2 linked regions of the Homo sapiens genome follow. Each later gene encodes a partner of the first gene's protein in a complex. Each region holds a gene or a part of one and is shown on either strand. Other genes may lie near its edges.

Region 1 (15,864 bases):
ATCTTAAGGACATCATGCTAAGTGAAATAAGCCACACGCAAAAGGACAAACACCGTGCGATTCCACTGATAGGCAGTCTCCAGAGTAGTCAACTTCATAGAGACAGAAAGTGGAATGGTCGTTGCCAGGAGCTGGCGAGTGGGGAAGGGCAGAATTTGTGTTTAATGGATGGTGGTGGTGGTTATCCTACAATGTGAATGAATTTAATGCCGCTTAATGAAATGCAGATTTTAAAATGACTGAAATGGTACATTTTATGTATTTTGCCACAGTTACATACATGTGGCCAGGCGCGGTGGCTCACGTCTATAATCCCAGCACTTTGGGAGGCCGAGGCGGGCAGATCAACCGAGGTCAGGAGTTCAAGACCATCCTGGCCAACATGGTGAAACCCAGTCTCTACAAAAACACAAAAATTAGCTAGGCATGATGGTGTGCGCCTGTAATCCCAGCTACTCAGGAGGCTGAGGCGGGAGAATCGCTTGAACCTGGGAGATGGAGGTTGCAGTGAGCCAAGATCACGCCATTGCATTCTACCCTGGGCGACAGAGTGAGACTCCATCTCAAAAAAAAAAAAAAAAAATACATGAATCAACTTATGAAAAAAAGATCTTACCCAGCTCGTTCTCCACCATGTTCTTTATGTGGCAGGTGGCAGGTGTGTGTTGAATGAATGACTGAGGATGGAGCTTACCAGCCACACATCATCCCCACCCCATCCAAGGGCAGATGTGACTGGAGTGACTTAATGCTGCTGCCTGCAGGACTGTCTTGCCTCCTCTCTCTCAGCCTCCTGTGGGTGACTCCGGAGCCCGTTTGAGTCCCCACAGCCATGCATCTGCCCATTACAGTCCCAATCCAGATGAGTATCAACCCACCTCCCTTCCTGAACTGAGCCATGCTCAGTCCTGAATGACATTAGCTATTTCCAAAATACTAAATTCAAAGCATGGAGATGTGACTCTGCTGTGATTCTCAGGGACCAATCCACAGGACCTACGGGCCATTCCCAATGTGTGGAGATTCAGACAGTACCCCTGGAACAAAGGGGCTGCTCCCAGGGAGATGCTGCTCCCAAGGAGATGGTACACACTGCCTGCAGATGCTCAGCACTGGCCCAGGCTCACCCATGCCGCCTGCCTCACTCCTGTGGCCCCTCAGAGTGCAGAACAGTGTCTAATCGCCGAGAAACCCCAGGGCAGGGGAGGGGGAGCCTGGTCAGTGAGGGTCTGGGTCTAGATGGAGTTTCTCTTCCAATCTAGAGCACAAGCTTCTCCAAAGTAGTCTTTTTCCACGGCCAGAGGCCAGAGCCCCACGTGATGAGGTGCCAGGCCTCATGCTCCATGGCACCCTGTGCCCATGCAGCTCCCCAGAACAGCCACCACTGTCCCTGAGCCACTGATCTCCCCACAAGGCCCAGGAACACAGGGACCATTCTCACTTCCCTGACCCAGAGACCGGGAGCCTTGGCAAAGAACTTACAAAGATAGACTGCTCCTTCAACCGCCTCTTGGCCTCTTCCGCTTCTAAAGTCTGCTGTTTCCTCCTGGAACGATAAGCAGCCAGCACCCGTCAGGGTGCGCCCGGGGGCCCCTGGAGCGCTCCGGGCGGGCAGGCTCACCTGTGCTCCTCGATCTGCTGCTCCCGCTCCCGGTAGCGCCGCTCGCGCTCCTCTTGCTCCTGCCGCTCCTGCTCCATCCGCTCCTGCTCGAACCTGAGCCTCTCATCCAGGGCCTTCTTCCGCTCCTCCTCCTTCCGCAGCTCTTCTTCCTTCTGCAAGCCCCGGTGCGAACAAGGGTAGGCCCCGAGCCTAGGCGCCTGGACCCTGCCCCTCCAGCCCCTCCCTAACCCAGCGCTGGGGGCGGGGCACGTGGCATGGGCCATGCCACTGCAGTGAGGGACTCAGACCTGCCCCATGGGGTCCATGAGGGGTGGCTCAGCCAGGCCGGGCTCAGGGTTCCATACCTTGGCCTGCTCCCAGAACTGCTCTCGGTTAATCCGCTTCATTTCCACAGCTGCATCCGTCTTCTGGTAGGTGGTGCCCTGCAGTGTCGAAGGACCCAGCATAAGCAGGCTGAATGCCCCAGGAACCCCCGACACCTAAAGGGTGAGAGCTAAGAGGGACCGGGCAGGCCAGACTCGGGCACCAGGCCACGCAGGCAGAGCCCACGGGTGCCAAACACACACTAACCACGGGCTCTGCGTTCTCATCCTCTCGCAGCCGCAGTCGGTGCAGCACAGGGCTGGAGAGTCGCGCCAGCCCGTTAGAGAGCCGCTGCCCGATGGCACCCGCGTCTATGTCTTCCACGCTGCTGGCGTTCACGATCACGTCGACACCCTTCCGCAAGAAGACGGCAGTGCTCAGGCGGCACCATCCTCCCGCCATCCCCACCCCAGCACGCAGACCCTGGTGGCTGTCCCCACCCCCAAGAGCGCTGGCCCCTGACACGCACCTGGAAGAACTCCGCCACCTTAGCCACGTGGCTGGCACAAGCGCACTTGCGGGCATCAGGCACATCTTCGCCCACCTGCAAAGTACCCAGCAAAGAGGGGGTCAGGAAAGGACAAGGGGGGCCCTACACGATAGGGTGCATCTTCCCCGGGGTGGGAAGAGGGTGGGCTTCCCTCTCCACGGGTGTCAGAGGGCCGACGGGGAGGGCGACTGCTCTGGGCCTTCAGTTCCCTTCCCCAGCCCCGGCCGCATACCCAGTTGATGAGCAGCTCTGGGCCCTCAGCCCCCTTCCCCAGCCCCGGCCGCATACCCAGTTGATGAGCAGCTCTGGGCCCTCAGCCCCCTTCCCCAGCCCCGGCCGCATACCCAGTTGATGAGCACGTATTTTGGCAGAGCAGCTTGGGAGTCCTTGACACTGCAGAAGCCGTACATCACCTTCTGGTTCTCAAAGTGTCCCGAAAGCTCCTGCAAGCCCCCTTCTAGGGTAATCAGGAGAGTGTCAGGTCTCTCTGCCTCCTAAACCCTTCCCAAAAAGAGCCTGGAACTCAAAGCAAAGACTCCTCCAGGCCTCCACAGGCACCCCCAGGGGTCTTCTGGCCTCTGGGGTCTGTGGGTCCCAGTTTTGTGTTGGTATGTGTGGGGGTGGTGGCGCACAGGGATGTAGCTTTGCCTGTGACTCCTGCAGGGCCTGATTTGGGGGTAGGACTGAGGAAGTGTTTGTTCTTCACACTCAGGTCTCATTCTTCACACATCATCATGTCTCACCAGGTGCCAGTGCCCAGAGGCACAATCAAGCCTTCTGGCTCTGGGGAAGGCGGTGAATAGGGCCCTTCCCCCAAAGTGTCCCAGCTGTGTGGCTTCAGATAAGTCACTTTCCCTGTTGGAGGCTCAGCCTCAGAAGTCCAACATTCAACAAGGCTCTGAGATTCCTCCCCACCCTGGGGACACAGGGATGACTGGAGGAAGGACACCCGCCAGATCCAGACAAGTGTGGGGCTGCAGGGTGCAGGCAGGGAGGTGGCCTACAGCCAGGTGGGTGGGGAAGAAAACAACCAGGAGGAGGGGGTGGAGAAGGCGGCGAGGGAATGGCTGGAATTCCTACCTCCTGATGCTGCAAGCTTGAGGTCATCGGAGCCATCTTCATATGTGTACAGAGCCCTGGGGAGAGGGAGGGGTGGCTGTCAAACTGTCAGGGCCCAGGCCGCCAATTCTGGGTGGGGACGGCTCTGGGGAGGGAGAGGGACATGGAGTGGGTAGGACAGGAACGGGGAGGGCTCCTGCTGTAGCCATGACAACAGGGCCAGGCATCGGTTCAGGCGGGAGCCCAGCAGGGTACTGCTGGAGGCCTGGGTCAGGGGGGCGCAGGCAGTGAGGGGAGAAATTGCTGGCTGGTCGAGCTCAGTGCGCAGCATCCCGGCCCTGGCCCTGGCAGCCTACAACCCAGTGGAGCGGGTGTGTGATGGAGATTCCAAGGCGACGGTTCCTTGGTTACCGTTCCCTGGCTACCAGGATCCTCATCCCCCATTGGCTAGTGCCAGGAACTTACCTGGCACGTGCCTTGGTCCCCGCTGCCCCTCCCCCGGGGAGGGAGGAGGAGAAGAGAGAACCTGGTGCTCCCAACAGCTCTGGGCATCCCCCAGTAACCATGGCAACCCTGCAATTGGCACACGACTGGCCCACCCCAACTGCATTCTCCTTGAACACAAAGGACCCTGGGGACCCGCCCTCAGCCTCAATCTCCGCCTCTCTGAAATGGGGATGAGGTCACTGCAGTCACTCTCGCCCAGACTCTGGCCCCGGGGTGGCCAAGCCTGAGCTCCAGGCCTTCCAGCCCCTAGGCTGCCTCAGTCCTGGCTGAGGCTTCCTGAGACTGCTGGCCTTTCCTTCTGTCTGAGCTCTAACAGAAAGCTGACCTGGTGGCCTTCCTCCTTCCTCCTCCTCCCTAGCTTTGTGTGCCCTGGCTCCTTTTGATAGGCTGCGGTGACAGAGCAACCATTGCACAGAAGGGAAGGCAGAGATGCCTCCTCCATCACCCCATGCAGGCCCAGGCTGAGGACCCTCTGGGAGGGAGGAGAGCCGGGGCCTAGGAGGAAGGGCCTTGTCCCTGAAGTTTGAAAGGGCTCTCAACCCCTTCTCCAAACTCCTATTCCCCAGGTGCCAAGGCAGGAGGCTGGGGCTGTGAGGAGGGGAGGCAGAAAGGGAGGGCAAGGGAGAAGAGAAAGAGGAGGGGAGAAGCAGAGGGAGAAACCAGGAGAGGAGGAAGAAGAGAAAGGACAGAAGTGAAGGGACAAAGGAAATGAAGGCGGGAGGGATGGAGGGGACGTCTCAGGAGGTTGTGGCCAGGGCCAAATGGCCTCAGCCCCTCCCCTTCCTGGATTCCCGGCTTCCTACCTCCAGGAAGGAACACAGGTGGGCTGTGGGGCTGGGAGCTCCTGGTCCAACTGTTACCCCCAGCCCCAGCCTGGCCCTGACAGATGCTTCCAGCACAGCTGGCCCACCACCTGTCCTGCTGCCCTAACCCACCACGGGAACAAAGGGCCCTGGGAGAAGCAGGCTCTGTCTCTCTCCATGCACTGATGAGAAACTAATGCAGAGCCCAGGGACCCTAGTTCCTAGAGACTGCTGTAGACATCAAGCCTCCCTCTGAGAGGACCTGTCTTGGCCTGCCTAGGCTCCCCGGGGTGCCTTCCATCCTCAGCCCCTGGCTCCCCACCTCCGGCCACCTCTTCCTGCTCCAGCCGCAGCTCTCCCCCAGCAGAAACCATACCCCAGTTCAAACCCTCCAGCCTGCCTTTCCATTGGACCACCCTGTCCACACCACACACTTGGGACACACTGGACGGCTCCCTGACCCAAGCAGGGTTCTGGACAGGGCTCACCCTGAAGCCTCTGCCTATGTAGTTCTCTTCACGTGGAAGGCAAGACCTGCTCCTCTACCCCACGCCTATTCCCAGTGGAATGCTTCCGTTCTTCAGAGCCCAGTGCTGGCCCCCAGCAGCCTCTCCTGAGCTGCCCCTCCCAGAGCACCCACCATATCCCAGCAGGAATACAAAGACCAGTGCTTCTCAACCACATCAGAGGCACCCCGAGCCTGGTGGTGCACCAGGTGGAAGCTGGCGAAACCACAGGGAATCAGGATGGGGTAGGCGACCAGGCATCTACACATCTCACCAGCTCCAACTCCTGGAGACAGACACTGCCCCCAGCTGTAAGCCTGGTGAAGGCAGGAACGCTGACTCAGTCAATCAGCACATCCTGCTCTCTGGGTCCTGGGGTCCAGCACACCGCATACCAGAAGTATGTGTGATATTGACACCAACTCAAAAGCCATCTAGCCAGATAAACTGAACTAGCGTGAGGTGGGAGCTGGAATGTGGCAGTTCCAGAGACCCTGGGGTGAGCTGGGATGGGGGGTGAGCTGGGGTGGAGGGTGAGCTGGAGTCGGGGGCTGAGGGCAGGTGGACCCCGCAGGACCATCACTCTCAGGATGGTGGTGCTAGAAAGGCCTTCAGTATCCGAGGTAGTGCTGGGCCCAATCCCTTTTCTTTCCAAGAGGACCAGGAACTTGTGTATGATCACAGTGAGTCATATCACAACCAGGACAACAGTGGCCCTTCCCACCACACAACCTCATTTCCTGGGTCCCCTGCTCCCTGTGCCAGAGTAGTGGTGCACTTCAGAGGCCCTGCCACCTAGGAGTGAACTCCCCCAACCACCCCTCCCCATTGGAGGCAAGGTAAGGGTCGGGGGGCAGACAGCAATTTACCCAAGACACCCCTCCCTCTGGACCTATGTGCAGGGTCTGCCTCTGAGTCTTCAGACCTCACTGCACCCCTGGTTCCATGCTGGGCCCTGGGGTATTCATATTCTCTTGTGTAGAAAGTGATCCTCACACCCCTTTTTCAAAATGTTATCTGGGCCCTTAGTGAACGAATGTGTGCATGTGCGAGGGTACATGTGTGCATCTGTGTGTGTCCCACACACAACCCAGATGGGGGCTGACGCACACCAGTGATGAATAACTCGCTTTGGCCACACGGATGCTGCTGGGGTGGGTGGGGGCAGGCCTGTGTTGAGCAGGATGTGGGGCAACAGGGGTTGTGTGGCCTTGGCAATAGGCCACCAGAGCTCTGCTTTTAGGAGAAAATGGGGTGTTGGTAGACAACACCCCTCCAGGCTGGAGGGCAAAGGAGGTGTTCTGGGGTGAGCTGTGCTTCTCCCCAGGCGGGGCCTTATCCCAAAGCCAGCTCCTTCACCAGGCCAAGCCGGCCACTTGCCCAGAGCTCCTCCCATGATCTCAGCCCCCCTGGGGCAGGGCTGGGACAATGGGTGGGCCGCCTGCCTGCTGAGCCTGTGCCGGCCTCTCCTGTGACTGACCTGCAGGACACGAGAGCTTGTCTCTCGCGTCCATCCCTCCAGGCCTGGCTGCTGGCCAGTGCTGCAGTACCATGCCATGGATGCCCAGCCATCTCATCCTCTCCTCCAGAAGCCCCCAGGTCAGAGTCCCCACCTGGCTGCCCTCCCAGTGTGCGGGTGAGGCCAGCCCAAGCGGGGTCCCTCAGACCTGCCCTCCTCTTTGCCTCAGTTTCCTCAAGAAGAACCTGTTCCCATCTGCCAGCAGGGAGAGGAGGCCTAGGAACCAGATGGGCACCTTCCCTAGAAGAAGAGTATTACGGGGGGGTTAAAGGATTCCAGGATGGGGCTGTGAGGAACCCCTCGGTTTCCTTTTTCCACCACCCTGGGCCGCCAGCCCCAGAGCAGGTGGTCCATCCCCTCCCCCAGCTCAGCGGGAGACAACAGCTGGGGGGCGGGGTGAGGGGCGGCCCAGCTCCTCCCCCATCAGGGACCGAGTGCCCCTTGCTGGGGGCCGGTGGATCTGTTCACCCCTTCAGCCGTCTTTGGGGGCTCCCTCCACACTTGTTCTCCAGAGGGCTTCCTCCCAGGGATCTCAGCTGGCCCCTTAGGCAGCTCGGTGCCCCCCAGCCCAGCTGCCTAGTCCCCGCAGTCCCCTTCAGGTAGGGGAGGAGAGCTCACCCCTGCCTCCTCCGCGACCCGCGGCGGTAAGGGAGTCACTTCGCGGTCGCCATGTGGCAGCAAACATCCTTCCACCTCACTCCAGCCCAGGTTTCGGGGGGAGGGCGGCCCACTCCGAGAGGCCCCCCGGTGGGCGGGGCGCCCGGCCCCCAGCCCGCTCCGCTCCTCCCCCGCCCTCGCTTTCCTTTGTGCTGTGGCCGGGCCGGGCTGAGCCGGGCAGGCTGCGCTGGCTCCGCTAGCTCGGTCCCCGCCCCGTCCCCGCCCGGACCTCGCCCGCTCGAAGGTGGCGAAGGTGCCCTTGGCCGCCCCGTGCACACCTGTCCCCCGGGCCCGGGGGGTAGGGTGGGGGATGGGCTCCCGCAGGGCCACGCGGCCCCGGGCCCCACATCGGGACCCCGCGCCTCCGGGCCGCGTCCGGCCGCCGCTCCCACCGCGCGCCTTGGGCCGCCTCCGGGCGCTCGGGGCCCGGCAGTGCCCCGCCTGGCCCGCCGGCCCCTCCCCCGGCGCGCACAAAGGCAGCCCCTCCCGGCCCTCCCGGCCCGCTGCACCATTTCGGGGTCCCCCTCCCTTCCCGGCGGCGGGGCGGCGGGGCGGGAGAGAAACAAAGGCGCGGCGGCGGCGCGGGGACAAAGGGGCCGGGGGCGGGGGCGGGGGGCTCACCAGTCGGCCGCGCTCTCCTCTCGGATCACCTCCTCGTAAGCCGCCAGCAGCTCCAGGCGGTGGCCGCTGAAGCTGACGCCGGCCATGCTTCGGGCCGGACCGGGCCGAACGGACAGACGCGCGGACGGACGGGCGGACGGAGGAGGAGGGAGGGAAAGAGGGAGTCGCCGCCGCCGCCTCGGAGCCTCTGCAGCGTCGCGAGCCGAGCGAGCCAGCGGCCGGGGGAGGGGAGCCGGCCGGCGGGGGGCGGGGGGCGCTGGCTCCGCCCGGCTCGCTCCCTCCGCTCGCTCGGTCCTAGCGCCGCCCCGGCCCGGCCCAGGGGGAGGCCCGCCCCCCCTTCCCGGCCTGCCCCGGGCGCCCCTCACCCACCGCCCCTGCGCGCCGCTCCAGGGCCAGCCCCACCCACGTCCCGAACCCTCACCTGCCCCGTCCGTAACCTCGGCGCTAGCCCTCCTTCCAGCCCCGAACCCAGTCCCGTCCCCACCTCCCCCCGCCCACCCCCCGTCCCAATCCGGTTCCGCCCCACCCATTGCTTCATTGATCTCCATTCCTGGTGCGTCCCACCTCATGTTAAACCCATTTTCATCCCAACCCAGCTCACACAACACCCCACCCCTGGCCCGTCTCCTTTCCCTGAGAGGTCCTTGCCTAGTCTATCCCATCATATCCACTGTCATCTGCATCCCACCCTCAAATCCACCCCAGTTGCTTTCCCATCCCAGCTTCAGCCCCATGCTTAGCACGTGTCCCCCCCAACATGTGTCACGGCACATCTTCAGTCCAACCCATCCCAGTCTCATCCTGATCCCAGTTCCCAATTCCCAACCACAGCCCCCCATCTCGGCTCCATGACCACTTATTCCAGGCCATTCTCAGCCCCTACCCAGCTCATTATCCCTCCATTCCAGGCCTCTCCTCCCCTCCACGCCTGTGCCCTCTCAGATGGGGCCAGCTAGGAGATCCTTTGCATTCTCTCTCAAGCCTCACGCCTCCCAGAGGAGTCCCAAGTAGAGTTCCGGAAGCAGCATCTAACCCCAGACTCCCACGGCAGGGCTCCTCCAAGGACGCTCAGGGCCAGCCTCTTGGCACCTTTATCTCCTAAAGCTCTAAGCACAGAACGGGAGGGGGCCTCAGAAAAGTACCCCCTGCAAGGGAGTGGACACCATGCCAGGGCCTTCCAGAACTCCGTTCCTTGCTAGGTTGGGACCCTGAAACCGTCCACAGCGCTTAGAAGCCTTTTCCACCACTACAAAGCCTCCAACCTCGACCTCCCTGAGCAAACTTCACCTGGTCCCAACCGCACCGCGGAGGAGGAGGTGGTTCTAGCCAGGCCTCCGAGTTCTGCGTTGGGTAATTGGCTATGCCAAGAGAAGGAGAGCAGGGCTGCCTATGTGGCAGTGTTCCTGGCGCTTTGGAGTTGGGAGAACCCTCTTAAAACTCAAAATACTCACAGGCCCCTGCCTTGGGAAGTCAGTGCCCACTATGTCTAGGGACCACAGGCCATGGCAATTTCTCCATGGCCACCACTAGAGTGAGGCACCCAGGCAGGGACACAGCCAGGCCCTGTGCCCTAGACCAACTGGCCAGTAGGTGTGGTTGGCCTGCCATGGGGATCCCTAAGGGAGTGGGTGACACATGGTGGGGAAGGGAAGTGGGGAGAGCCATGGAGGGACAGAGCTTCAGCCATCCCCCACCCTTAGGCATGAAGAGCCTGATTCTGGTGAGGAGGGAGACCCTGCAGCCGGGGAGGGGCAGCAGATGGCTGGCCATGAGCATCTGTGGCCTCAGCCTCTTCCAGCTTCCTTTGATTTGTCCTAGCTCACAGCTCCTCGCCCCCCCCGCTCCCCTCACCCCCCAGCCTCCTGCACACTCAATTTTGCATCCAAAAAACAGAAGCCCTAAATGCATCTAAGCTCTTCCTTCCTCAAATTCCTGCCTCCCCACCAGCCACCTACAAACTCTCCAGCCACGCCCACTCTCACCTCTTGCCATCAACATTTTTAAATAAACTTTCTATTTTAGAACAGTGTTAGATTTACAGAAAAGTTACAAAGATAGTATAGAGAGTTCCCATACACCCTGCACTCAGTTTTCCCTATTTTCAGGGAAGCAAGGGTGTTCCCTGCTGGCATGCCCTAGAGCCCACTCCCCTGGTCTCCGCACCCGTCACCCTTCCAGGTTATCTTCATCCCCTCATTTCTATAGGATGCAGACAGACATCTGTCCTCTGTCTCCTCCTCCCCGCATTTTCTCTGGCACTGCTCTGGCCAAGGTCACCAGTAACCCCTAACTTGCCAAACTCAGTGGACCCATAGTTCTCAGTTGCCCTGACTGGTGGGAGTGGGTGGCCACTGGTCACTGTCCTCTGAGAACCTGCCTCCTTTCAGCTGCTGTTGCCCCTGAAGCCCACACACTCAGCCTTGGTGGGTGGGAGGCTGGTGGGTTCCTCCTACCAGGACTTCGTGTCTGCCACCCCCAAACCGATCACCCTTCAAGTCACTGACAGGTCGGTCTCTCCCACCCCCAGAGCATGAGCTCCCCCTACACACAGCGGGAGGCTGGGCCAATGACTTCTGGATCCCCAGAGTGGAAAAGATGAGACAAGGGAGGACTGAGATCCAGAAACTGGGCCTTTGCTGTGTGACCTTGGCTGAAACACTTCCCCTCTCTGAGTTTCCTTTTGATAACCTGTTGTGAGAATAAAATGGGACTGGATGGAGGCTTAGAAGGAGAACCCCCTCCCTCCCTCCCTCCTCACAGCCCCACCCTCCTCCCTCCACCCCCACCTTCCTGTTCTGTGCTCCCCCACACCTCTCCGGGAAGGTTTTAGGGCTGAGGGGAGGCTGCAAGACTTTTTCAGCAAGAGCTGGTGGAGTCTTCTCTGGCCTCTTCCAACCTCTGCAAGATCCCACCAAGCACACACACAGATTGCCCCTTGATCATCACAAAGCTCATGGCTGTTCCCAGGTATCTGCCCCCGGCGCCGGGCCAGCCACGTTCATTCACATTAGCTCTGCTCCTGAGGAGTCTATTGCTAATGGTGTGACCTTGAGCTTGGTGCCTGACCTATCTTGAATCACTCATCTTCAACTGTAATATGGGGGTGATAGTGATGGTACCTACCTCCTAGGGTCAGTTTGAGGATTTTCAAAAAGTATCTAGGAAGTGCTTAAAATGAGACCAGGACATAGTAGGTGCTGTCAATGTGTTGATTGTTATTATTAGTTTACAGATGGGAATACTGAGGCCCAGAGAGAGTCAGTGACTTGCCCGGAGACACACAGCTTTGTGTCCCATTCAGACACAAAGTCTGAATGGGAACCCAGGTCTGTCCCAGGTCATTTCGGTACCCCACACACCCTCCCCGCTTCCCCTTGTAGCACCCCTATTTCTGCATGCAGGGGTGAGGTGGGCTGGAGTCTGATCAGAAGTTGCAGATGCTCCAGCTCTGAGGTCTGGGAGTGGAGTCGGGGGCGGGGCCCTGGGCATGAGGGGAGGAAGTGCCATGGACCTCCCTGCCAGGCCTGCTCCGCCTCCCGTTTTCTGGCAGACTTTCCACTTTCAGCTCTAAACAGGAGTATGTCGTCCAAGCCAGGAAGGGTCAGACCCAGTGACTACTTCAGAGACAGACACATGACCCAAGTTAGTCCAATGGGCGTTGGCCCTCGGACTTTCGCTGGCGCCATTAAGAAAGCCTCCCTTGCCGGGAGCGGTGGCTCACGCCTGCAATCCCAGCACTTTGGGAGGCCGAGGCGAGCAGATCACGAGGTCAAGAGCTCAAGATCATCCTGGCCAACATGGTGAAACCCTGTCTCTACTAAAAATACAAAAATTAGCTGGGCCTGGTGTTGCATGCTTGTAGTCCCAGCTACTCAGGAGGCTGAGGCAGGAGAAACGCTTGAATCCGGGAGGCGGAGGTTGCAGTGGGCTGAGATCACACCACTGCACTCCAGCCTGGGCCACAGGGCGAGACGCCATCTCAAAATAAATAAATAAATAAAAAATAAAAGAAAAAAGAAAAGAAAGGCTCCCTCTGTCCGCTGGGGCTGCTGAGCTGGCCAGGTATGGGCCTGGAGCTGCTGGGGGCCATCCTTGCCAACAGTGGGGAGAGCCTTCTGAGAATGAAGCCAGCATTGAGGACAGCAGAGCCGAGAGGTGGAGAGCATGAGAGAGGGTCCCGGTAGCCGCCATGGGTACCTGGATCCAGCCAGGTCTGAAGCCATTCACTTTTTCAGTTCAATTATCCCCGTTTTTGCTTACACTAGCTTGAATTGCAGCTGAGAGGCCTACCTAATCTGCCTCGTACCCAAGTAGTGGTCATTTTGTCAGTGGCAAGAAACTTGGGTGAAATCTCAGTTGATCTTCCAGTACTCCAAAAACCTGAGCGGGAGGGCCCAGGCTGGTCCTGGGGTCCTCACTGGCTCAGAAGTGGCTCCCCCCGCACAATCTCCCAAGTGGCTGGTGCTGGTGTCCTGAGTTCCCCCAGGCTGTCAGTCAGCGAGCTTGTTCTTGTTCCACCATGACCCCCGGAACCCTGGTCCCCTCCCCTCCTTCCTTTAAGGCCTCCGTTGGGAGGGGTTCTTCTTCCAGTCTCAGGGTCAGCTTTGGATTTAGGCAGTCTCAAGTTCAAAGGGCGACCTGTGGCCAGCCCTTTAGCCCAGGGCCTCAGCTCCCTTCCTGTGGCAGGGCCACCTGGAGAGTCTGAGGATGGTGTGTGTACCTTATGTGTGTACCAAGGCCATGTGGGGCCCTGCACTGAGGAGGCAGTGGCAGAATCATGAGGGCCTGCCTCTGTACTCTGGCAAAACAGTTCCTCGCCCTCCACCGCCTCTCTCCCTGCTGATCCAAATGAGCTCAAGCCATTCTGAGCTGGGAAAAACCCCTCCCTTGCCTGCTGCCTCTCCAGTTACCCACTCAGCCCCCTGCCATGGGCTCTGCCCCCTCCAAGGGTGCTAATGGCCTCTCCTGCCTGGCACGAAGACATTTACTTCCCGGTCCCCATGGCCTCCCCCCGCACAGCCTTGCACCCCAGCTTCGGAACACTGTGATCTTTGCAGCTTGTGGTTGCTATTATTATTTTTTTGAGACGGAGTCTCACTCTGTCACCCAGGCTGGAGTGCAGTGGCGCAATCTCAGCGCACCACAACCTCCACCTCCTGGGTTCAAGCAATTCTCCTGCCACAGCCTCCTGAGTAGCTGGGATTACAGGCGCCCGCCACCACGCCTGGCTAATTTTTGTATTTTTAGTAGAGATGAGGTTTCACCATGTTGGCCAGGCTGGTCTTGAACTCCTGACCTCAGGTGATCCACCCATCTCGGCCTTCCAAAGTGCTGGGATTACAGGTGTAAGCCACTGTGCCCAGCTGCTATTATTTGACAGATGGGGAAACCAAGGCTCAAAGAAGGGTTGTGTCTTGCCCGGAGGCACACAGCTGGTGGAGCGGCAAAGTCTGGATGGGAGCCCAGGTGATGGGGGACGCATGAGAGGAGCTGGGGAGTGCTGGTGGGTCAGCAGGGAACACTTTGGCCTTTGATCCTTGGAGTGGCAGTCCAGGCCATTCCATCTGGGTGACTCTGTACAAGTCACTGATCCTCTCTGAGCCTCAGTACCCTCATCTGAAACATGCCTGTAATAATGTGTTCTCAAAGGTGTTATGATGATTAAATGACATGTGATTGCATCATGTTTCCGGCCTACGGAGTGAGGGTGGCTGTTTCAAGGAGGTGCCTGGCACCTGCTCCTGCCCCACTCTAGGCCAGCTCCAGCTCCACGGTTCTGCATTTGCCCCTGCCCTTCACCCCACTCTCTCCTTACGGCCCCCTCCCAACTTCTCCCATCTTCTCCCACCATCCTCCAGCAGATGCCTCCCAGGCCTCTCCCGCCACCCACACCCTGGCCTCTCAGCTGAGCTTGGCGGTCATCTTGGCCCACCACAGCCAAACCTCTTAAAAGAGCTGTCTGCACTCTCTCCTTCCACATCCTCCCCACCCTCCCGCCTTGTTCCTCTTTAACCCTGGCAGCCGCCCCAGCTCGGCTAAACTGATCTGGCAAATGTCACCTTGTTGTGAAATGCCACGAGGGACTCCTCGGCCTTATCTGCCTGGTTGACATTGTCGGCAGCTTCTTGACACGCTCTTGCCCTGTCCAGGCTTCCTTGCCCCTTCCCTGGAGGTTGTTGTCCTCCTGCCCTGGCCGTGCTGTTCCTGCCCAGTGCTGTGATGCTGGTGTTCCGGCGTCTCACCTCCTCACTATGCTGGGCCCTGGCCGTCCTCATGCTGGATTTGGCCCACATTTGTTATTTTTCTAATAGGATTAAAAAAAAAATCTAATGTAGTTGCCAATATTCAAACACCAGATCTCACATACAAATCTGAACCTCTGGACGCTGTCGATAAACTGGCAGATCTGGCCGTGCTGCTCGGCGTTCCCAGACGGGCTCCCGGCTACAGTTACCATCCGTCCCTGTGCCCTTCTCGCTTGTATCCATGGGAACCGAGGACGGACGGAGAGGGCTTCACAGTTCAAGAGAAGTGGGAGAGAGCACATTTCCTTGTGGAAGTGAAAGCTACTCTGTGGTTAACATGCCAAGGATGTCCAGGTTGAAAGAAAACCACATCCCATCTGCTTGACCCCTGATGCTCCCTGCGTGGGCCCTGCTCCTGGCTCTCCCTAGGCCTCAGTGACCAGCATTTATGTTGACTGCCCTGAGCCTGTCTCAAATTCATTCCCGAATTGAAGTGGAGGTGAATCCAGACTTGAATCTTCAGCTGTTTCCTGAATGTGTCTCCTAAATGTCCCACAGGTGCCTCGTGATCATTCAACAAACACTTACTGGGCATCCACTATATGCCAGGCACTGACATAAAGTCACTCCGGCAAGGCATCATGAAAATAACACGAGGCTGGGTGCGGTGGCTCATGCCTGTAATCCCAGCACTTTGGGAGGCCGAGGCAGGCAGAAAAAAAAAAAAAACATGAAAATCACACACGAAGCTTTGCACTCATTCTCCAGGATTCCAAGAGAGAACACAGCAGAGACCCTTCTTGTCTCTCTCTCCCTTTTTTTTTTTTTTAAAAAAGAGACAGGGTTTCGCTTTGTTGCTCAGGCTGGAGGGCAGCTTACTGCTGCCTCAACCTCCTGGGCTCAAGTGATCCTCCCACCTCAGCCTCCCAAGTAGCTGAGACCACAAGAATGCACCACTAGGCCCAGCTGAATTTTTTTTTTTTTTTTTTGAGACAGTCTTGCTTTGTTGCCCGGGCTGGAGTGTAGTGGCGCAGTCTTGGCTCACTGCAACCTCTGTCTCCTGGGTTCCAGGGATTCTCCTGCCTCAGCCTTCTGAGTGGCTGGGATTACAGGCATGCACCACCACACCCGGCTAATTTTTGTATTTTTAGTAGAGACGGGGTTTCACCATGTTGGCCAGGCTGGTCTCAAACTACTGACCTCAGGTGATCTGCCCACCTCGGCCTCCCAAAGTGCCAGGATTACAGGTGTGAGCCACCACGCCTGGCCACATATATATATATATATATTTTTTTTTTTTTTTTTTTTTTTTTTTTTGAGACAGAGTCTCACTCTATTCCCCAGGCTGGAGTGCAGTGGCACGATCTCAAGCTCACTGTAACCTCAGCCTCCTGGGTTTAAGCGATTCTCCTGCCTCAGCCTCCCGAGTAGCTGAGATTACAGGCGTGTGCCACCATGCCTGGCTAATTTTTG
Region 2 (15,720 bases), on another chromosome or scaffold:
AGTATGGTACCATTTTTATGTTTTAAAAAAGAAAAAAAGGGGGGAAAAAGGACTAATTTTATGGCATCATATACATGATGCGCACATATATACATACAGATATGTATATATACATATACATGCATACATGCATAGAAAAGCTTTTACAACGGTTGATACTGGCCACTGTGGAAGGGAAGAGAATGAAATGGAAGGTAAACGGGATAACAGACTTTTATGTAAAACTTTCTGCCCCCTTTTTAAGGAGAATATATGCATGTATCATTTATAAAATGAACAAAAAAAACTTTTTGAAAGTAAAAAAGCAAGTAGCAAAACAATTTTTAAAAATAATGCCAAATGGAATGTGCAAGGCCTTCAAGATACAATGGCCCGGAAACAAACGAGAACTAAAAAAAAAAAATAAAAGAGCAATGACTTTCTCCTGTCGATGTGGCAAAATGGGAGCGGGCGCCACGGAGAACAGAAGGGGAGGCTCGGTACCTTTCACAGCCTGTCTGGTCTGATATCTCGTCCCCTGGGAAGACTGAGGCTGCTGCTGCTGGTTTTGCTGCTGCTGCTGCTGCTGCTGACGCTGCATCTTCTGCATGTGCCACTTTTGGGAGGACGTTTGAAACTTACTTGATGAGTTCCACACGACCCGCTGCACGGCCGGGGCAGTCTCCTTCGGTAAAAGCGGCCTCTGCTTTTTCACTGGGCTTCCTGTGGCGGCGGGGGCCGGGGCCGTGACGGTGACCGTGGAGGACGTGCTGGTGGTGGCTGTGGCGCCAGCCGCGGAAGTTTGGGCGGAAGAGCGGGTGAGCACCGGTGTTTCCGGGGGAGAATGGCTGCCCACCGTCGTGGATGGTGGAGTTTTACCTACAACTAGCCAATGCATGAAGAAAAAACAAACAAAAACCGGATTTCACTCAGGTTCACCTGCACGGTCTTGACGCCACCAAGTTCTGGGTAAAACCTATGAAAGCCAGGAATGCCGAACCAATTCGACGTGCCAAGCACACCGCGCTGGAGGAGTACATTCTCACCTAACGCTGAGGCCACTTCTGCGGCGTCTTCCATCTCCGCGAGCAGCGGCCTCCTTTACTGAGCGCCGGCCCACATCTGAGATACAAGTCAAGACCTCTAGGGGAGAATGAGGCAAACAAGACCCGGCTCCTGCGCTCAAGCTCCCCTACACCTAGTGGACAATGCGGTGGGCGAACAGATTCAATGTTCACGCCCTTTTCGCAAAGTTAAAATCTAGTCGGCACCTTGAGAAGGGCCCAGCGGAAGTCAATCCAGACAGGAAGAGCAATTCTTTGGCTAGGGAACGTAGAAAGCAATACCTCCAAAGAGCCAGATGGCCTCCCAATGGCCAAAGCAGTAACACTCAGTCACCCAGAAAGAAAAGTATTCTTTTCATCTCTTCTGATTCCCTCCAGGACAAAGTTTGAAGGCGGTACTGATAGCCAGGACAATACCAGGAAAACAAATTCTGCCCCAAGGCCAGAACCTTCCCCCAACGCAATGGTACTGATCTAGGATTGAGTAGCATTGCTTTGGTTTTGATTGGATTTATTCCTATCACCAGCTTTTATGTATACTGTGTGCTACTGTTCTTATTGGGTGGTGTTCAAGTCTAAAATGAGTTTATACTTGCAGATGCTTTTTTCAGGGGAAATTTTTTTACTAAAAAAATGAGGCCAAGCACGGTGGCTCACGCCTGTAATCCCAGCACTTCGGGAGGCTGAGGCAGGCGGATCACTTGAGGTCAGGATTTTGAGACCAGCCTGACCAACATGGGGAAACCCCGTCTCTATTAAAAATACAAAAAAATTAGCCAGACGTGGTGGGAAACTGAGGCAGGAGAATTCCTTGAACCCAGGAGGCGGAAGTTGCAGTGAGCCGAGATCGCGCCACTGCACTCCGGTCTGTGAGAAAGAGTGAGTGAGACTCCGTCTCAAAAAATATTACTAATAGGCCGGGCGCAGTGGCTCACGCCTGTAATCCCAACACTTTAGGAGGCTGAGGTGGGCGGATCACTTGTGGTCAGGAGTTCAAGAGCAGCCTGGCCAACATAGTGAAACCCCGTCTCTACCGAAAATACAAAAATAGCCGGGTGCGGTGGCAGGCGCCTGTAGTCCCAGCTACTCAAGAGGCTGAGGCAGAAGAATCGCTTGAACCCGGGACGTGGAGGTTGCAGGGAGCCGAGACCATGCCATTGCACTCCAGCCTGGGTGACAGGGTGAGACTCCGTCTCAAAATAATAATAATAATAAATGAAAAGTAAATAAAATGAGTTTATTTTATTTATTTATTGAGATGGATTCTCACTCTGTCACCCAGGGTGGAGTGCAGTGGCACAAACTTGGCTCACTGCAACCTCCGCCCTCTGAGTTCAAGCGATTCTCCTGCCTCAGCCTCCCGACTACGTGGGATTACAGGCGCCTGCCACCGCACCCAGCTAATTTTTTTTATTTTCAGCAGAGACGGGGTTTCGCCATCTTGCCCAGGCTGGTCTTGAACTCCTGACCTCATGATCCATCCGCCTTGGCCTCCTAAAGTGCTGGAATTACAGGCGTGAGCCAACGTGCCCGGCCTATTTTATTTTATGTTTTAAAGAGATAGAGTTTTGCTATATCACCCCGGCTGGGCTCAAGCAAGCCACTTCAGCCTCCCGAATAGCTGGGACTACACGGGACGTGCTACTGTGTCCCGCTTTAAATGAGCTTAATTTTATTTTTAAAGAATGAGATTCTTGGCCGGGTGCAGTGGCTCACGCCTGTAATCCCAGCACTTTGGGAGGCCGAGGCGGGCAGATCACGAAGTCAGGAGTTCGAAACCAGTCTGGCCAACATGGTGAAACCCCATCTCTACTAAAGATACAAAAAATTAGCCGGGCATGGTGGTGTGTGCCTATAATCCCAGCTACTTGGGAGGCTGAGGCAGGAGAATCGCTTGAACCCATGAGGCAGAGGTTGCAGTGAGCCGAAATCGCCCCATTGCACTCCAGCCTGGGTGACAGGGCGAGACTCCGTCTCAAAAAAAAAAAAAAAAAAAAGATTCTTTAAATAAAAAAAGTCAAAAATTATACAAGCAGGACTTGAGAACGGGAAAGACAATGAATGTGAATGACTCAAGTTTGAAAAACGCTGCCATATGGAGTATGTCATCTTGGAGGAGCTGGGCTGGTGGGGAATAAAGGGTAGGATTTCAACAGGCGGAAAGTGAGAATCTGGAGGGAACAGCATCAGCCAAGATATGTCTAGGAATACAGAGCATTTGAGTAAGTGAGGGCAGGCAGGGAGGAGGGGCTGGAAGGGAGGTTAGAGCCAGAAGCACTGAGCAGCACGTAGAGGCGATGACCACACGGGAGCTCATTTGTAAAGGTGGCTCAGTTATGGATGCACAGGCCTCAGCCCCCGGTAAGGTGAGCCTATGCCCCAGAGAGGATATCTGGGGAACACACACCACACCCAGGTACAAGCCAGCACCCCGATCTTGGACTATGCTCCCTGACATCAAACTCCTTTAAATAAGGATTATGTCTGCCTCTTTTTCTTTTCTTTTTTTTTTTTTTTTGAGATGGAGTCTTGCTCTGTCACCCAGGCTGGAGTGCAGTGGCGCGATCTCGGCTCACTGCAAGCTCCGCCTCCTGGGTTCACACCATTCTCCTGCCTTAGCCTCCCGAGTAGCTGGGACTACAGGTGCCCGCCACCATGCCCAGCTCATTTTTTGTATTCTCAGTAGAGGCGGGGTTTCACTGTGTTAGCCAGGATGGTCTCAATCTCCTGACCTTGTGATCCACCCGCCTCGGCCTCCCAAAGTGCTGGGATTACAGGCGTGAGCCGCTGCGCCCGGCCTATGTCTGTCTTTTTAAGATCAGTATTACCCAGAAAAAGACATGAGCCTGATTACTCCAGCAAGGATTTTCATTCAGTAAGCTGTGGGTTTTAAGAAGCCAAGGAGGGAAAGAGACAAGCTGACTATCCCGACTTCAGAGGGCGTTCTCGATGGTTATCGAGATGTTGCTGGCCCTTGTACTTCCCCAGAGAGGAGAATCCAGCCAAGCTGGTCAGCAAGAGCCTGGGGTGGGTCTGGAAGGAGAGCTTCCTGCAGTGAAGAACTCCGATGCTTCCAGGGCCACCTGCCAGATATGGGGCACAGTCCCCGCCTCTTCCAGGTGGAGATGAGGTGTTGAACTGGGCCCTTCTAAGAGGAGGGCAGGGGGCAGTGCCTTAGCAGAGCTTCTAACCCACGTAAGTGCCTTCAATGCCTTCCTTTCCTGCCACATTACCAAAAAATATACTGTTATTGTTGATGAGCTAGCCTGTCTCCCCACCGTAAGGGCAACCGCAAAATGGTCGTTTTCTCTCTCCTGATTTGCAAAAGCAAACAGCCAGCAGGGCGGAGGGGTTACTGCTCTGCAGTGATCACAGCTGGCTCTCTGCCAAATAAAGAACTAGAGTATACAATCCGATAAGATTCCAGGCTCAAAATTGTTTGAAGTTATTTAGATATCAAAATATTTAAATTTCCAGGAATCCTGATGGTTTATGGAGACAAAATGAGGCTACAGGAAATTTCATTTGTCCCAGAAATCTGGAGTACATAATCAATCACCTGTAGCGGGAAAAAAAGGGTGAATTTTTTTTTAAAGGGTCAGCACCTGAGAAGCTGCCCTATCAAATTAACCTACTTAATTCCTGAATTTGTCACTGGTCACTGTTTTTCATTTATAAAGCAAGGACTTTTTAAGAGAAAAATTAGCATCCCCTTTGTAGAAGGATGGAAATTACTGATGTGCCAGTGAAAGCACAGCGAAGAGTCTAAGTGTGCTCTCTTTGCTTCTGTTCTGAGGTTATTAGCTATAAAAGCTGTTTTGCCATCTGAAGATTCATATTCTACCCATAAGCTGCATCCCTAGTGGAAGGTAAGCTGGAGGTCACAACAGCGCAATCCAAAATGCCCTTCACTTACTAAACTCTTAAGTGAAAACACATCATTGAAAAGATGCTCTCTAGCGGAGTCTGACACGAGAATTTTTCAAGACCCAAACCACCATCAGCTCTGAATTTAAGATCAATTGGTTTTGCCCCAAGCCTTAGGAAGCTGCTCTAACTGAACTGTGTTTTAGAATCATCTTCAGCTTAATTGTCCACCATCTACTAAAGCTTCCTGGAGAAATTCCCTTCAGACATCAATGTGAGGAAAAGTTCTACTTCTTTTAATCAACTAGAATGGTTTTTTGTTTTTTTGGAAAGTATGAGATCTTCTAAGGTACTGTGTTTCCCATTCTGCTTTCAGAGCCAACTTCCCTAACTCTGAAGATTGAAATAGTACAGATTTCTGTATAAAACCTTTCCCCAGACCACTTGCTATTCTACCTTCATTTTCCTTTTACATGGATGTCTTTATTTTCATCTTGTTTCATATGGTTATGTATCCTTGTCAATCTGTTGCAAATTCTTTCTGGAAGAGGTAGGGGCACAAAACCAATCAATCAAAAGATCTGTTCCAGAAAGAAAGAACAGTATAAATATGTCACTCATAGGAGCACTGCCATCTGCACCCAAATATTCCTACGATCCTCATGAAATAAATGCTACTCCTATTGTTCTCTGCAACAACAGAGACAGTCTCTCAAAACCCAATCCATAACATACTCATATTTTTCAGAGGCCATCTATAAATCTAACAGATGGGTCGGGATGGTTTGATGGCCTATCCTCCCTCCCTTATGTAACTGTATCTCTCTCTTCCTCCACTGTACCTCTCACAGACATTCTCTTTAGCTGAACTGCAGGAATCCTCTCTCACTCTGACAGCTGAGGTTCCAGAGCAGCCCAGGTTGACCATAACCACAGCAGAAAGATTCTCAAGGCCCATCCCTGACTTGCTTTAAGCCACCAGACAATGGAAACCCCAAAGGACATGGAGTTACATCTTATTCAAGGGTTTCATTGACAAGTTAGCTCCTGATAGAAGTTAGGCACAGTCAAGATTTAAACCTGGCTATCCCTTAAGTCACTCGCCACATACATAAGGTTTTATGGCTACAACCTGTAATTTGTCCTGGGGCAATGTTTCTTCTGGGCCCTTAGTTAATTCTTCAGTATCTTTATTGAGCATGTTGAATCCTCTAACCTAATTGCCAAGCCAACTCAAAAATGTGCTGAATACTTTGTCAGTGGGAAGGACATCCTTCCAATCATTCCCACACCCCTTTTGTTGGGCTTGTTAACATGCCCAGGCTGCACTAGGCTGTGGGGTAGTCACTGCTGGTTCAGAATATAACCGTAGCCTCTGAGACTCAGGGGATATTTGGCAATATTTGATTGCCACATTTGTGACTGCCACAACTGAGCAAGTAAGGTTGCCATCTGGCTGGTAGAGGCCAGGGATGCTGGAAAACATCCTCCAATACACAGGACTAAGAATTAGCCAGGGCAAACTGTCAGAAGTGCAAGGTTGTGAAACTCTGAGCTAAGTTAAATGCAAATAAGATTAAAAGCCAGTAAGGCCAGACGCAGTAGCTCATGCCTGTAATCCCAGCACTTTAGGAGGCCGAGCTGGGTGGCTCACCTGAGGTCAGGAGTTTGAGACCAGCCTGGCCAACATGGTGAAACCCTGTTTCTACTAAAAATACAAAAATTAGCCAGGCGTGGTGGCAGGTGCCTGTAATCCCAGTTACTTGGGAGGCTGAGGGAGGAGAATCACTTGAACCCGGGAGGCGGAGGTTGCAGTCAGCCGAGATTGTACCATTGTACTCCAGCCTGGGCGACAAGAGCCAAATTCTGTCCGCCCCCCCTCCCCAAAAAAGCCAATACACATATCCACCATACTCCATTTTCTAGTGCCCTAAGAAGCACTCAGTATTCTGGCACCAATCACCCAAATACTGTCCTACTACTGTAAGAAAATACACTTGGAGATGCCTAGGTGGCATGAGGGGAGGAAAGCAAAGCTGAAATCATCAAAACCTTTGAAATGAACACTGCTTTTTTTTTAGAGAGGGAGTCTTGCTCTGCCACCCACACTGGAGTGCAGTGGCGCAATCTCAGCTCACTGCAACCTCCGCCTCCTGGGTTCAAGCGATTATCCTGCCTCCGCCTCACGAGTAGCTGGGATTACAGGCGCCTGCTACCACGCCCCGCTAATTTTTGTATTTTAGTAGAGACAGGGTTTCACTATGTAGGTCAAGCTGGTTTTGAACTCCTGACCTCAAATGATCCACCCGCCTCGGCCTCCCCAAGTGCTGGGATTACAGGCGTGAGCCACCATGCCCAGCTTGAAATGAACACTCCTAACCGTTTGAGACTTGTCAAAAGAGAATGAGATGTCTGTGGAATGCAGCACTGAAGGACCATTTGACAAGATCCAAATGTTAACAAACACTTTGGGGAAATAAATGAGCATATTGGAAAAGAAGCTGCTCAGACTAAAAATGACTTGGTCACTAAAAGTAACCATCATTTTCTAACAGACTTCTCTTTCTGTACTCAAAATCAATCATACTGGATACCGAGCAGGTTAAAGGTAGGCAGGCCCATGTTTGAGTCCAGGTCCTGTTCTATGACTAGCTAGGCAACCTTAAACCAAACACAGCTTCACTGTGCCTCTCTCTCAGTGTGTTAGAGGGTCACATAACTTCTGATTTGTTTCTTTAAGGGTCACATAACTTTTGATAGTAAGTGTACGAGGTAGGATTCTAAACCAAATTAAGAAAACTGGAAACAGATACAATCACTTACCATCCTGTTTGGGAGATGGTTCTTTGGGTTCCTTCTTATTTTTTCGACCCTCCCGCCCAGAATGGTCTTCTCCTAAATCTATGACAAGTTCGCTCTCTGAATCAGAGTCCAGGCCCAAATGGACTGTTGGGGAATCCGTCTCATCTTTTCCCTTCAGTTTATCCTTTATGGGGTGAGGTGAAGGTTTTGCCTTTTCGGAAAAGTCCTTCTCAGGCTCAGGGCTGGCCTTGTCCTTGACTGCTCCAGGGTCTGCCTTCTCGCTGGCTGGTGACGTGCTTTTCAGCTCCTCTTTAATCTCCACTGGGTTTGTAGGCTTGGGCTTTTTTTTAACAGCAGATGGCTCTTTGTCCATCTGACAACCTTCTTTGTCCTCTGTGTCTTCTGGCTCGTTCTTAGACTTCTGCTCATCATCACTGATATACTCACTATCGCTACTATCTGACTTCTCAGAATCCTCCGAATCGCTGTGCTCTACGGCCGTATAGACATCTTCCGAGATTTCATTTATGCCTAAATTCAAAAAGAAAACCCAGCATGTGGCGTAGTCACAAAATAAAGAGCAGGATGAAAAATGCAAACATTTTTCCACACCAAATGCTGGAATAAGAAAAGCACGTTTCAAATCGCATCACATTGGCCTAAATGGGGCCAGTAATAATCTCAAGTGGCAACTGGCTACGGCTGCCAAGTGGTACTTGCCTTGGGAGAGGGTTTTGGTTGTTAGGAGACACAGGACCTACCAACGGAGATTTTAAATTTATATGGCACTAAACATGTGGTGCCAAATTTTTGCAACGTTGATAACTAATTGGGATTATTGAGAATGAAGAGGGCTGGAAGGGAACAGCAGGGACAAGCTGTTCAAACTGATCCAATTTACAGATTAGAAAACAGAGGCCCAGGGATATCACCTGCCCTAGGACACAAGACAGAGGCCAGGCCAGAACCCCGGGTTCCTGGCTCCCCACCAACACTCTTCCCTTGGGTTTCCAAAGGGTTAAAGTTCTTGATCCTTTGTGTCTAGGCCAAAGAAAATAAGCCAAAGCCTTAAAGCAGAGGTTGCAAACAGCCCACAAGCCACATCTAGCTTGCAGACATGTTTCATGCGAGAGGCACTGGTTTGGCCCACAGGGTATCTTGTCTGCTTTTAATTTATAAATGTGTTGTCCAACTCACAAATCAGGAAATTTCATATAGAAATCAAAGCAGGGGCTTCTGATGAAAGAGCGGAAAATCTAGCCGCTCTGGGTCACCAGCCTGCCAGGCATTGGCTGGAACAGGAAAGCCACTGGCTCCTCTAGGCGGGGGACACACTTGTCTCCAGGTGACCCGGGTGCCCAGCCCTCCCTCTTGTTCCCTGCACTCGTGGAAAGTCAACTGCCACTCGGTGTGCATTGCTCTTCCACTGGTAAAGGAGTCAAGAGAGAAGTCACATACTTCTGTCTCTTTCAAAAGGAAGAAGCACAAACTAGCAGGTGTTTCATACACACAAACAAAAATGGGCAGAAGCACATTTCTAACAATAGTTCCATTTAACCCATTTACGGCTCCTGCCCCCAACCATATGTTATGCCATCATACTGTAGATAATAATACCATATCCTAAACTTTTAGAAAGAGGAAAGAAAACCCAATCAAGTCTGTGCAATCTCTTCATTCTAGAGCAATGGCCACTGTGAATGGTGCCACTGTCCGACTTGTATACACCAAAAAGAAACCTGCAAAAATACCAGAGCCATGAACAGCCCGGGGCATGGGGGATCAGCTGGATCATTGGGGAATGTATCTGCCTCCACCAGGGCTCAATCAAAAACACAAGTCGAGCCAGGCATGGTGGTGCACACCTGTGGTCCCAGCTACTCAGGAGGCTGAGGCAGAAGAACTGCTTGAACCCAGGAGTTCAAGGCTAGCCAGGGCAACACAGGAAGAACACAAGCCAAAATACAAACACCCAGATCTGGTATAATTCTGGGATCCTAGGCTTGTGCTACTGGTAGGTAATGATTGGAAACAAGAAGGAAAAGTGTAAGCACATATGTGATAGGAAAAGCTTGGGTACTGCAGTCCAAAGGACATGAATTCAAATCCTGCTTTTCTGTTTTTATTACTGGTGTGACCCTGAACAAGTTATTTATCTCTCTGAGCCTCAGTTTCTCTATCCGCAAAATGGGACTGATAAAAGTATCAACCTCCCAAGACAATCTATATGCAGTGCTTAGCATAGTGTCCAAGGAAACACTCAGTAAATGGAAATAATAAAATTCTTATTAGCAATAAAAACAAATCAAGAGTTGGGCCAGCTGCATGGAAGGACCCAAGAGGATTATTTAAATGGCATGCCAAATTTCACCCATGCCACCCAATGTCCTCACCAAACAGGCAACCCAACGGGAGCTGTTGTCCTCTGGATAGCCCCAGATGGGTCCCTAACTCTAGCTGCTTTCTCACCTGAAGATGCAGAGCACCCACTGACACTCAGAGGAGCTTGCTCTCCAGAGGCCCAGCCATCCCCCACTTCTTTACAAATGCCCTCCTAGCTTTACTTACTTATTCAACAAACATTCCAGAGCATCTACCATGTGCACAGACCAAGTACCATAGAGAAGGCAAATCCTCATAAAACGGCCTCCCTGCCCTCAAGGAGCTTCCAGTCTAGATTGGGAGGGACACCCCCACACAAAGGGACCATTGCTACTTCCGAGCAATGAAGTACCAAAGGAGGAGGGCAGATGGGGAGGGCAGTCAGGGGAGACTTCCTGGAGGAGGTGAGATCTGAGCTCAGCCTCACAGAAGGCAGGATTCAGGTAGGCAGTGTGAAGGCAGGCAGCACAGGGAAGAGGAAGAAAGGCAACAGCTACAGAAGCAGGGTTTGCCCGGTGGGGAGGAGACCAGTCTGGAGGGAAAGGGTTTCGTGTCGGACACCTACAGAACACACTCACTACTCGTGTGGAGACACTGATGCGTACTGAGGAGAGCAGAGGCAAAACTCAGAGGATCCTCATTCTGCTTGCAAACCTTGATGATTCAAACCTGTATCTCGAGTTTCCAGACTGCTTTCACCAAAGAATAAACTGATGAGTTCAAAAAGCCCTGAATTAACTAGCAAGTCTGAAGTCTTTTGCCATGAGTGGAAATATATTTTAGCTGAGCAAATAGTTGAAAGTTAAAGCAGCTGCTAAAAGCAGCCAGGATTCAACCTTGATTTCATCCAGGTGGTATCCCTACCAGTAATGATAACAATGATACTGCTGGAAAAAAAAAACAAAACCAAAGGTATACCTAATTGTGCTTTGCAACTCTCTATGGTCTTGTCAAGATTCAGCTGGAACCTGCTACGAATCTGGCGCTTGGGAGAGATGAGAGGAACAGGGGTGGACTGTTGCTGGACCGACTCGCTCAGCTCCTTCAAATCCATCTCAGCTTTGCTTCGATCTGAAAGAAACCATCACACCCTCGTAAGATCAGGCACACACCATCCTCATCACGGAGCTTCGTCCTTGCAAAGTCAGAGCAAAACACACATTTTAGAACATGGGGGAGGGGGAGATACTTTTTTTGTCATTCATCCCAACAATATCATCTGCTCAACCAAATGGGGTGACATGAAGATAATGGCCCACGTGAACACGTTTGGCAGGTTTAAACAGTCCACTGAACAATCGTCTGGGTGACTTTCAATATTTAAAATGGACAATCCCAGCCAGATGGCTCAGTGTGTGGAAGTCAACATCATTAGGGACCCTCCAAAGACAAAGGTTATGGGCAGATATTCAATCTCAATTTCAGTGAACAAAGCAACACTGAGCCTGGTCAAGGTGTACTTGTAACTTCAGGTCCAGATTGAAGAGGACTTGTATCCAAGAAAGATGGCGACCCCCTCGAAAACACCCTGATAATTGGGGGCCCTAAATGCCTATTTGCCACAGAGGCTTCATTTTTCATTCTCAGTGGACCTAGTCTGGGGTGGAAACTAGAAAGGGCAGGGAATATAAGATAGGCAGACCTTCCAGCCAGTGTGTTGTGGCTCACAGCATCTATGTGAGGCAAGGGGAACAGATTAGCCCTGGATACTCAACCTCTGTCTAACAGGTCTCGCTCAAGTAAGAGTCCAAGGTCCTCAGCCTAGTTCCCAGGCAGAGGCCTCTGGGGGGTGACTCAGGCCGGAGGTCCTGTCCCCTCACTTCTTCGAGGGCTCTTTGTAGGACCAGCAGGACAGATTCCAAAGTCAGTGAGCTTACATTTCTTGGATTCCTCTCCCACCGACTCCAGTGCCCCCAAAATATTAAGAGTTTCAGTGGCTGCAAAGGTCCAGAAAGCAACAAGCAACTCTGCAGGTGGGGCCTACTGTCCTCCACTGTGCCTGCCACCCTCTGGCATCCCCTCCAACCCACCCAAAGCGAGTGTGAGGCATCTGTCCTACTCCGGCCGATCCCAAAAAATAAGTCAGAAAGCAGGTGGAATCCAATCAACCCACAAAGAGGAGAAGCCACCTCTGAGCCTGTTCCCAACAGCTATCAGGTTGCTCCCTGGACTTCGTGCTTCATCTCCCTGCTCCCTCCATACCTCAGGCCACCTCCATTCATTGGGCTGTGAAAGAGGCCCCAGAATCTAGTCTGAGAGCTGGGCTGGAAGCACTGTTTAAAGCCATCACTCTCTCCTACCTTTTTCCTTTGGCCTGACCCAACCACTTTCCTGTTCATGCAGTAAGGGAGAGTTCTCAAACACTGCATACCCAGAAATCAGCTCCTTCAAAGTAACTAGAAGCAGCCTCCCAAAAGCCCCACCCAATCCACTCACAGGTGACCAGAAGCAATAAATTGCTCCAACTTAATTTTATCAGCCCCCAGGATAAGATTAGAAAGAGGTCTTTTCCCAGCCAGGTGTGGTGGAATGCACCTGTAGTCCCAGCTACTCAGGAGGCTGAGGCAGGAGAATGGCTTGAGCCAGGAGTTAGTGGCTGTACTGAGCTATGATCACGCCACTGCACTCTAGACTGGGAGACAGAGCAAGACTTTTTTTTTTTGAAGGAAAAAAAAGGAGGGAAGAGATGGGTCTTTTCCTAAATCACACTTACAGACTGCCCCTCCCAGACCCAGGGAGATTCCAGAAGTGAGTGCTCAAAGCAAGCAGAGACACTATCCCTGTAATTCAAGAAAAATAGCAAAAACAGTATCTGTGTGCATGCATGTGTGTGTGCACACTTATCAGGGCTTTAAAGACAGGCTACTAGAGACAGGACTGCAGACATTCACACAGCCACCTCTGAGAGGGTGAAGAATGTGCAAATTTACTGCAGTGGGGCCAGGCACAGTGATTCACACCTCTCCCAGCACTTTCGGAGGCAGAGGCAGGAGGATTGCTTGAGGCCAGGAGTTCGAGACCAGGCTGGGCAACATAGCAAGACCCCCATCTCTACAAAAAATACAAAAAGTAGCTGGGCTTGGTGGTGCACGCCTGTAAACCTAGCTACTTGGGAGGCCGAAGTAGGAGGACTGCTTGAGCCCAGGAGTTTGAGGCTGCAGTGAGCCATGATTGCGTCACTGCACTCCAGCCTGGGTGAGCAAGATCCTGTCTCCAAAAAAAAAAAAAATTTACTGGACAAAGAACTAGAAAACTCTTTATACCCGTCTCTGTCCGGCAAGAAATCTGAAGTAGCTTAACAAAGAGAAATTATAGGGTAAAATAATTTTAAAAATAAGGAATGGGGAACACTAAAAGAAAAGGGAGGAGCGCCTCTGCCCAGTCGCCCCACCATCTGGGAAGCAAGGAGTGCATCTCTGCCCGGCCGCCGCACCGTCTGGGAAGTGAGGAGCGCCTCTGCCCCGCCCCGCACCATCTGGGAAGTGAGGAGCACCTCTGTCTGGCCGCCATGCAAGCCTCCAGGTGTAAAGTGGCAGCCTTGTGTGTGATCTTTCTGCCCTCCCCGAGTTTGCATTTTTGACACTAAAGTTTACTTTTAAATTAAAAGTTTATTTAAAAAAAAAAAGAAAGAAAGAAAAGAGAAATGCCGGGCGCAGCAGTTCACGCCTGTAATCCAGCACTGTGGAAGGCCAAGGCGGGAGGATCACTTGAGGTCGGGGGTTCAAGATCCGCCTGGCTAACATGGTGAAATCCCGTCTCTACTAAAAATAAAAAAATTAGCCAGGCATGGTGGTGGGTGCCTGTAATCCCCGGTACTCAGGAGGCTGAGGCAGGAGAACACTTGAACCCAGGAGGCGAAGGTTGCAGTGAGCGAGATCGCACCACTACACTCCAGCCTGGGCGACAGAGCAAGACTCTGTCTCAAAAAAAAAAAAAAAAAAAAAAAGCCCAGATTAAAGAGTTCCAGTAGGCAGGACTCAAGGACTTAACAGCTGAGTTGCATGCAAATGTGACAGCAAAGGGGGAGGGATTTGAGGCCTCCCTCGGAATTTCCACTTTCAGAAATGAAGAAGCATGCTAGATTCCAGAGGGAAAAGCCAGCCTTTTCAAGAATAAAGATGGAAACGTATACTCACAAAAATACTCTCCATGGCTACCCAAGTGACACATTCATCAGTGTCCTCAATATTCCTATATACTACTAGAATACACAGTTAACGAAAAAATTTACAAAAGAGACCAACAAACTTTCTTTGTAAAAGCCTGGAGAGGACCGGGAACAGTGGCTCACACTTGTAATCCCTGCAATTGGGAGGCTGAGGTGGGCAGTTCCCTTGAGCTCACATTTGAGACCAGCCTGGGCAACATGGTGAAACCCTGTCTCTACTAAAAATATGAAAATTAGCCAGGCATGGTGGCACACGCCTGTAATCCCAGCTACTCAGGAGGCTAAGGTGGGAGGATCGCTTGAGCCCAGGAGGCAGAGGTTGCAGTGAGCCGAGATCAGGCCACTGCACTCCAGACTGGGCAAAAGAGCCAGACCTTATCTCAAAAAATAAAATAAAAGCCCAGAGAGTAAATATTTCAGGCTTTGCAGGCCATACAGGCTCTGTTGCAAAAGCAGCCATGAACACTACATAAACAGATGGGTGTGGATGTGTTCCAGTAAACTTTATTTGCAAACACAGGTGGGGGCCAGATTTGGCCTGAAAGCCGTAAAATCTGCCATCTTCTATACTAGTCCAGTGACTGCCAACCCTGGCTGCACACCAAAATTGCCTGTAAAGTTTTAGAAAATCCTGAGGCCTGAGCCCCATCCTCAGAGACTCTGACTCAATTGGCTGAGGGGAAGGCCTGGGCATCAGCCTTTTACAAACTTGCCAGGAGGTCGAGCGCAGTGGCTCATGCCTGTAACCCCAGCACTTTAGGAGGCCAAAGCAGGTGGAGCACCTGAGGTCAGGAGTTCAAGACCAACCTGACCAACATGGTGAAATGCCATCTCTACTAAATATACAAAAATTAGCCAGGCATGATGGCACCTGCCTGTAATCCCAGCTGCTTCGGAAGCTGAGGCAAGAGAATCACTTGAACCCAGGAGGAGGAGCCTGCAGTGAGCCGAGATCACACCACTGCACTCCAGCCTGGGCAACAGAATGAGACTCCATCTCAAAAAAAAAAAAAAAAAACCACACCAACAATAAACTTGCCAGGTGATCCTAATTGGCAGCTAAGGCTGAGAACCCCTGTATCAGACCAATCTTCTATGTGAGTAAAGAAAACTCACTATTTGCCTTAACTCCTGTGTGTGTGTTAACAGGACAACCTTTCTAAACCTTAGGGTCCATAAAAAGAGACCTAGACCTCACCTGAATAACTGAGCTCTGTGTGTGCACCTGCGTGTCTACACGTATGGCTACAGTAAATGCGACCCATTAACTTTAGCCTAAAAAGACTGAGCACTGGAATGTTCATAATCAAGAAAAATGCAAAGAAGGTAAATTCCCTCATTTTACAAACTGAGGTTTCTCTGGTCAGTAAGCTGCTGTTATGTTTATTCTTGTTAGAATAAACCACCAAATGGCTAGGGGCTGGGCCCAGGCCCTGGAAGCTGACCTTCAGGAGTTTA

The links.
Region 2: the proteins of DBN1 (region 1) and ZMYND8 are in contact, whole or in part, in a crystal structure (PDB 5Y1Z), measured with the Homo sapiens proteins. Residues at the interface, in NP_004386.3 of Homo sapiens: Met1, Ala2, Phe6, Ser7, Arg10, Leu11, Leu14, Tyr17, Glu18, Asp92, Ala93, Cys96, Ala97, Ala99, Ser100, Lys104, Glu107, Phe108, Gln110; in NP_001350670.1 of Homo sapiens: Gln167, Pro168, Gly169, Thr170, Gln236, Ile237, Val240, Lys243, Ile244, His247, Trp269, Leu285, Gly287, Phe288, Phe307, Gly309, Gln310, His311, Asp312, Ala314, Thr335, Lys336, Ser337, Ile338.

The regions. Positions count from the first base shown.
Region 1 is NC_000005.10:177,465,290-177,481,153, forward strand, and holds the start of DBN1 (drebrin), read right to left. Parts: upstream 8,346-15,864; 5' UTR 8,233-8,345; coding exon 8,147-8,232; intron 7,552-8,146; exon of another isoform or gene 7,487-7,551; intron 7,209-7,486; exon of another isoform or gene 6,922-7,208; coding exon of another isoform or gene 6,830-6,921; intron 3,611-6,829; coding exon 3,555-3,610; intron 2,932-3,554; coding exon 2,819-2,931; intron 2,529-2,818; coding exon 2,454-2,528; coding exon of another isoform or gene 2,339-2,453; coding exon 2,192-2,338; intron 2,044-2,191; coding exon 1,966-2,043; intron 1,774-1,965; coding exon 1,622-1,773; intron 1,547-1,621; coding exon 1,483-1,546; intron 1-1,482. UniProt on the Homo sapiens protein: Actin cytoskeleton-organizing protein that plays a role in the formation of cell projections. Required for actin polymerization at immunological synapses (IS) and for the recruitment of the chemokine receptor CXCR4 to IS.
Region 2 is NC_000020.11:47,238,275-47,253,994, forward strand, and holds part of ZMYND8 (MYND-type zinc finger-containing chromatin reader ZMYND8), read right to left. Parts: intron 11,166-15,720; coding exon 11,013-11,165; intron 8,244-11,012; coding exon 7,734-8,243; intron 865-7,733; coding exon 484-864; intron 1-483. UniProt on the Homo sapiens protein: Chromatin reader that recognizes dual histone modifications such as histone H3.1 dimethylated at 'Lys-36' and histone H4 acetylated at 'Lys-16' (H3.1K36me2-H4K16ac) and histone H3 methylated at 'Lys-4' and histone H4 acetylated at 'Lys-14' (H3K4me1-H3K14ac).